Homo sapiens: one gene and its partner. The protein of the gene in region 1 purifies or fractionates together with the protein of each later gene. This does not show direct contact. Each region holds a gene or a part of one and is shown in the gene's direction. Other genes may lie near its edges.

Region 1 (3,826 bases):
CGCCGCCCAGCCTGCCACGGGGTCGCCTCGTCGTTGGCTGGTCTTGCCTTGCAGAGAGTCTTAACGTTGTCTTTCCTACAGCTTTATTCTGCAGGAATGTTGAACGCGAATCATTTTAACGTGCGCAGGTCAGCGATGGGCTGAACGTTCCTTAAAATCGCTATTTTTGTTGCATCAGGGACGAAATTCTCTAAAGCAAAAACATTTTTAAAAAAATTCAAAGATGCAGAAGAAACGATAAATGCCCCATATATATAAAAGTGAAAACAATACTGTACCAATGAGGAAGAGAGTTTTGTAAAAGCAAGCAGGCTGGCTGTCATTAAAAGTTATCTTAAATAACTTGTCGCAGCCCACTCCCACCAGTCCCGAAAATAGTTCATTCAAGTGGTAAAATAAGACAAGGCAGAGGACGATGTCTCTAACTTCCCTGATGTGAGATCTAAAGCCCCATTCCTAACTCTTGGTTTTAGAATTGAGGAAAGTGGAATAAATGCATTTGGAAAGGATCTGTTTTCTTCCCAGGTTTCCTGCCTGGGTTGAAAATAAGGTTTCAGGGGATGGAAGCAACTTTGAGGAACATAAAGAGGTATTGGGGTTCATCAATTCATCTTTGTTTCAAGATGGTTCCCCCCCACCCTCCACAATGCAAGTTAATTAGGAGATAATTTAGCTACCTTGTGAATTAGTTTTAAGATAAGTATCTTTTTAAGCTTTGTCACTTTAATTGCCCCACTGATTGATAAGAAGTAATTATTTCTAATTGACACTTTTTTGATGTCTATTGGAAGCATTTATTTGGAACTTTTTGGGGGTGGAAGGAAAGTTAATTAATTTTATCAGTCTACCCCCAAAAGGACTCTGCCTAATTTTGTTGAAGAAGACAAAGGAAGTGAAGGAAACCAAATAAAAAATCAATCTCATGGAATTTTAATTACTAAGGGACACTTTGGTTTAAATTAGAGGGCATCTACTAATATAATATGTCAAAACGTTCTATTTATGGCCTCAAATCTCTAATTTATTGAGATGCATTTTATAGGTATTCATTTTCCTATGGATACACTCAACGGCCCTTTATATGCTTCCTTCATTTTGGAGCAGGTTCCTCTGCTGTGTAAATAATTTTTGTGAAAAGTAAAATCTGTCAAACTTGGTATGCCCAGAAAAAATGAAATCATTTTTGTAAGAGCCAATTGTAAGAAAGATTTACTAATAGTCATCCTTGTTCTGTAATTATTGATGGAGTTGGGTATAAAGGTGAAACTTTACTTACAGTGACTTGCCTTTTCATACCTAAACCTTGGAGTAAACAGTTTAATCATTCACATCCTCCAGAACATTTTGCTGTGAGAGAGAAAGGAGTGAAAGAATAAGGAGAAAAAGAAAGACACTGAAAGGAGGCAATGGGGGTGGAAAGGAAAGAAAGGGAGAAGGTAGCTGGAGAGAATAAAATGAAAGCATTCATTTCAGAAATGAAGATAGCCAGGTGCATGGAACCTTTGCCATTCAATATAAGAAAATTGAAATCCTGCTTTCAAAATACATTTTTGTTAACACCAAATCTCTACCACAGTCTCTAAGCAACCCCTAACCACCAAGGGATACCCCCAGTTTTCTACCCCTTAAAAAAAAAGAGGAGAATTTTAGGAAGCTGGCTGATCCGGATCTTGGATATCTGGCTGTCAAAGTCTTTATCTGGGGTCCATGAAAAGGAAGTAAGAAAACGCACATTGTGCTCTGGGATTTATAAAGAGATTCGAGTGTTGTTTATGTTTATTTTATTATTAAAGCCCCTGTGATCTTCATCTCCATTTTGTATGCACAATCTTTTCACAGATCGACTTGTGACTTATTGATATAGGAAAGCATTCCCACATTAACCCAAAGTAGAGACACACACACACGCACACACACGCACGTCTGGAATGAGAGAAACACAATCACACAGGACGCGTTCCTGTCAGGTTAATTTCAGCCAGTGCCTTTTTCAACCATTTATTGTAAAATCTTGCCTGCTTTTATTGATGTTTCTCCCTGATTATGTGGAGCTGCAAGAATGAGGAAATATTTTAAATGAAAAATAAATTTAAGACGTACAAACATCAGATAATATCACATACCAACCTCACTATTAGTGAAATTGAAAGAGTATATAAATAATGCAAAAAAAAATCAGCAAGGGAGAGTTTAGTAATGGAAAATTCCCTGCAATTAAATGAAACAGTAATTTAGTGAAGATATGCCTCAATGAATTAGCATTTATTAATTGGTTCTCATAAAAACAATTTGTGTGTGTGACTTGGGGAGGGGGATGTTTAAAGTATATATTGTCCAGAGATAAAGTTCCTCAAATATTCATATCAAATTATGTCGTTATCACATTCTATTTTGTGAGAAATCCCAAGTCTCTCACTGGCAAGTTACACCTGTACACAGAGAGCTTGAATGCAAAGGAAAGGATTCCCATCTAGATCAAAGAGTAAAGCTGGTTCCCACTTCTCTTGGTACATTTCCAAATGTGAAACGAATGAGGGACACACTGGCAGAGTCTTCTATGCTTAGGAACATCCAAACCGGGCCGCAAGAAGACTCCCTGAGGACCCAGCTCTTCTGGGGCACAGCTAGCTAAGCCAGAGCTAAGCCAGGGCTGGTTTGTGGTTCTGGTCCCCCAGCCTGCTCCAGCATCCTCTCCGGCTCAGGCAGGAACTGCAGTTTGTAATCTCAGCGAGGAGCTTGCTAGGGTTGACTGGTGCATGGATGTGTTTACTTTCTCTCGCCACAGTTGGTCTGTCTTCAGTTCTAAGCATTTTAAAGCTGCTCTATTTATCAGTCCAAGAAGTGCTGAGTTCTCCGTTGAGCTGAGAAGCTTTGAGCTCTATGGTTCTGAGTACACGAGAAGCCAAAAGATAAAAGAAACTGTTTCATTTAAGAAAAAAAATGTTTTAAAAAGTGGGGGCAGGGGAATGAATGAGCCCACCTTCAAGACTGCAGATTAGTTTTGCTTTTGTTTTAGTTGAAAACTTGGTGCACTGCCCCCCTTCGGGTCCTCATTCTCTTCAGAGATAGAATTTAGTATTGAAAACACCCTCTAAGAGAGGAGAATATGCCCTCACGTTATCTTCTCTTAGAGGGTGTAGAGTTCTTTGCGGGAGGGATTCTTTCCAAATGCAGATTGGAACACCTTCTTCGCCCAGGTTCTTCTGGGGAGGGAGCTAACACATTCTGCCTAGGAAATGCAGGCAATGACTACTTTCAGCAGGAGTTCTAGACATTCCTTTCGTGGGGAAGGAGTACAGAGCATGACAATCCAGGAGTCTCTTGGCTCCTGAAAACTCCACTCTGCCACACCAATCCTAGTTCATCCAGTCAGTGGTCAGTGACCCTGGGATGGATGGAATCTCTGCAGTGAGGTGGAGTAGGAAGAAGCATCCACTCGTCTTTGTTTATCTACAGTAATGACACTTTTAAATGGATCTTGAGGATTCATAATTATTTCCTTAGGTCCAGAGTTAGGGCTGACAAGACTGTTTGGGTTGCTGAAAGCCCCTCTAGACCCCTTCGTTGGCCAGATAGAAATACAATGAGCAAATTTCTCTTATATAAGCCACTGGCCAGAAAAATATTCATAGGAAGGCTTCTGTCTTAAACCTGTAATTCATGTAACTGAGTCTGGGCTTTACCTTGCTTGGCTGGTGGGGGTCCTTCCCCAGGAATGAGTCTCGATAGAAACCAGCATCTGTTTACTGAGGCATGTCTAAGATCAAGGGGAAGAAAGTCCAAGAGTCCCCGAAGGATACTTGGGTTCTGTTTCTGTGTTTCTTCC
Region 2 (3,826 bases), on another chromosome or scaffold:
AACTCATGTCCACTGAAAATAGAAAGACAGCTTGAAACTCTACCCTAATCTAACCTCCGTGTTTGTCTTAGAGCCTTAAGGAAGAAAATCTGTCAGACCTATCCAGTGTTAAATTCAGTCACATGAGCAATATTGTGAATCGGGCCAGGAAGAGAAATAAAGGAGGAAGTTGAATCGGGTTCAGCTATGACAAAGCAGGTCTTTCTTTTCATAACCCTGATGTTTTCTTTTCCTGCAGCAAGTCCGCATGCAACACCATCGACTCTTCATTTCCCGACATCACCCATTATCCAGCAGCCTGGGCCTTACTTCTCACACCCAGCCATCCGCTATCACCCTCAGGAGACGCTGAAAGAATTTGTCCAACTTGTCTGCCCTGATGCTGGTCAGCAGGCTGGACAGGTGGGGTTCCTCAATGTAAGGAAACCTCTTTTTTTCCATTTCTTTAGAAATGTTAGCCGAATATAAAAATAACAAGGGGAGACCTTATGATCATGTGACGTTGTGCTCTAATGTTGTGCTGACTGACTGCAGGCAAATGTCATATTTATTCTAGATTGTGGGAAAGTTAACTTGGTCTAAGAGTGATTAGTCAGGGTTTAAAAACAGTGTTTGTGTTAAGTTTGCAACTGTCAAGTTTATGGATATAAATCAGCTCAAGGGTGAACTATATAACCTTCTAAGTTCTGTGGGCTGATCATTCCACCTCGTGCATTCTAACCCCAGGGCTCATACAGTTAACAAAATAGAAAGACCAAGTAGTTTTAAATAATGATTTGGGGTGGTAGAGAAAGGTAGGGAGATGAAGGGGACAGATGTTTCAGATCAACTAAGTTGATATTTTTGAAAAATACAGTCTTGTAACACTTTAGATCAAGTTGACCAGTACTTGAACTCAAGATGCTGAAAGTACAGTTTATTATGGTTTGTTATTTCTGCAAGTCATTATCTTTCCCACTTATCTTGGTATAAAGCTAAACAGTGTTCAATAGCTTCACATGAATGTTTTTATTTTTCCTCAAATAAACCAAATAATCACAATTTGAAATGGCATTCCAAATGTAAAAGTGATTTTTAAAAATCAGAAATTTTATTTCAAATATAGGATTAGATGTTTACAGTGGAAAGCTGTATCTCAAGGCCAATAATAATAAACAACGACCAGCATAAAGCCAAATTTGATTTTCCTTTTCTACTAATAACTGTGCATGAAGTCACAGACTAGCCATAATTATTACTGGCCAATTTAGGATAGTATGTCACACCATCCTGTCACCGATTTTTTTCACTTGCAGAAATACCTGATTCTGCATATCTGCGCCAGAACAGGCAGCTTTGACTAATGTCTGGTGATGTGTTAGCAGATACATTTCTGTCTAGACAACAAATCAATATGGTGCCTCTTTTCTTTTTGCTTGTACATTCATTTGCTTGGCTTATTCTAAAGCATTCACTTATGGACTCTCAGCCCACTCAGAAATAACGCAAAGGCAAGGTTGCTGGCAAGAAAGCACAGCATTCTGATCGTCAGACGAGGTAGTCTTTGAGGAGCAATACTAAATATATAAGTACTAAATATATAAGTAAATGTTGATGGGGGAGTGAGACTGCCTCTGTAGAATTATTAAGCTTAAATGTAAAAGCCTGGGACAGCAGAATCTCCTTCAACCGAATTTTGATTGGGGACTAAATGTGAACTGTTGTCGTTGGTTGAATAGAGGCCTCTTGGGAAACAATGAAAAAACTGAGCTGATCACCAGCATCAAGCATCTGACTTCTAAATTATTAACCATTTTTGTAATAGTCCTGACACCCTATATAACTGTCAAATGCCCAGTTTTGCATTTTGATCAGAATTTTATAGGACTTAAGGCAGGTCTCTTCATGAAACTATTTTGAAAAAATTGAAAATAAAATGGGTTTTATTGCTCTCTTTGGAGGGGAATTTTTTGTTAAAGAGCTGTTATTTGGTTGTTTTAACATCAGGCAGCAAAATAAATATGACTCTTATGGCATATGCTTATATAATTTAAATCAAAATTAGAAGTGATATTTTTCCCTAGCAGACTTCTGACAGCTGAATTCTAAAGTTTCTGTGCCTGATGTTATACAATATGTGAACAAAATTTTCTATGTTCACTTAACACATTTATTAAATGTTATATAATATCAACTTTGAAGAGTGAAAATAAAATATTACTTTTTTATCTCAAGTGCATATTTAGGAAAATTTATTCTATCTATGTAAAGAAACATAGTGGAATAATGCCACAGTCCATAAAACACTTAGATATTAAATATTTAATAATCATGAGAAAGATAATGAAGGTAGCAGTTAATACAGAAAAATACAAAAGATTCCAAGCAAAAGTTGGTTACTCAGGGGACAAATCCAAAGTGATAATTGGCAGGTGATTTTATGAAACCAGATGCAAAGAAGGACAATGTAGTTCAAGAGATAAGTTTAGGATGCATGGAGCACATGTGGCTAAGAGTACTTTTGTGAAATGCCTTAAGAACAGAACCCAACAATGGACATTTCCGTATGGGCTTATGGAAGAATTGAAGCAGCTAGATACTTAGTAATTTACATTAAAGGTGCCTGATGAATATTTTGTTTTCAGAAGCAGCTAATGGTTGCTGTCTCTTTCTTCTTTTTCTTGTACGTGTGTTTTCTGCCCCCCCCCCCCCCACAGCCCAATGGGAGCAGCCAAGGCAAGGTGCACAACCCATTCCTTCCCACCCCAATGTTGCCACCGCCACCGCCACCACCGATGGCCAGGCCTGTGCCTCTGCCGGTGCCAGACACAAAGCCTCCAACCACGTCAACAGAAGGAGGTGCAGCCTCCCCCACGTCACCAAGTAAGTATGGCTGCGACAAGGCGCCGGTCACTTCTAAAGCTGTATGCACTGGAATCCACACTTAGGCTTTGTCCCTCACTGTATAGGCTCTAGAAAGAGGCACAGATCCCCAGTGATGTTGTAGCATGAGTTTGCCAGACCGAGAATCAAAGTGAACATGACTCTTGGGTACTCCACCAGATGAGGAAAACACTGGGTGTTGGGTGGATGAGATGGTGTAGCTACATACCTAGGACTGAAGTCAAGTTATGAGCTATTACATTTTGTATATTATTTGAGGGATTTCAAATGCTATTCCCATCATCAAGCAGCAGCTACTTACATGGATTCTGCTTAGAAAAAGTTCCTCATTCTTACAGACAGCCCTGCCTTCCAGGAACTTGCAGTCTAAGAGAAATGCACTTGAAAGTTATATACCTCATACATCAAATAGGAGAAAATGTCTAGATCAAAGCACCAACTCAAAGGTGTGTACACTGACCATTCGCTGAGAGTAAGAGCCTGGCAGAAGATCAATGCTAGTAGCCCTGGCAGTCGCATGGTGAGGTTTGGCAGAGGTTGGGGTAGGGGCTGGGGTACGGAGATAGAGGGGAGAGTAGGATGGAAGGAGGAGAGAAGTCTTGGCTCTTCTCTGAACAGTCTGAGAACATTTAATCAAAGAATATAAGATTTCACAACCCTTTTAGATGATGGGAATGATTACTTGAACTAGAGAGAGAGTAATTCTCCAGATATTCCCTGATGTTTTAGATATGGCAAGGGGATAGAAATAGTTTGAATGCACAAATGTGCCTTTTATTAGTGCCTGGAATAATGACAAAAAGAGTGATGGCTGGAGTTCCTAGGTGATGGATGCCCTAGCCTTGATAGATGGTGTGATGAGCACCTTCCCTAAAGCTGTAAAGAGGCAGCAAAGTATAAGAGAAGGATAGGAGCTGTGGCAGTGTGACCCTAAGGAAAGCCT

Evidence for each region.
Region 2: the proteins of PAX8 (region 1) and NFIA purify together in Homo sapiens (co-immunoprecipitation; one large-scale study listed by IntAct). This does not show direct contact.

What each region holds. Positions count from the first base shown.
Region 1 is NC_000002.12:113,272,117-113,275,942, reverse strand, and holds part of PAX8 (paired box protein Pax-8), read left to right. Parts: intron 1-3,826. UniProt on the Homo sapiens protein: Transcription factor for the thyroid-specific expression of the genes exclusively expressed in the thyroid cell type, maintaining the functional differentiation of such cells.
Region 2 is NC_000001.11:61,403,866-61,407,691, forward strand, and holds part of NFIA (nuclear factor 1 A-type), read left to right. Parts: intron 1-238; coding exon 239-417; intron 418-2,696; coding exon 2,697-2,862; intron 2,863-3,826.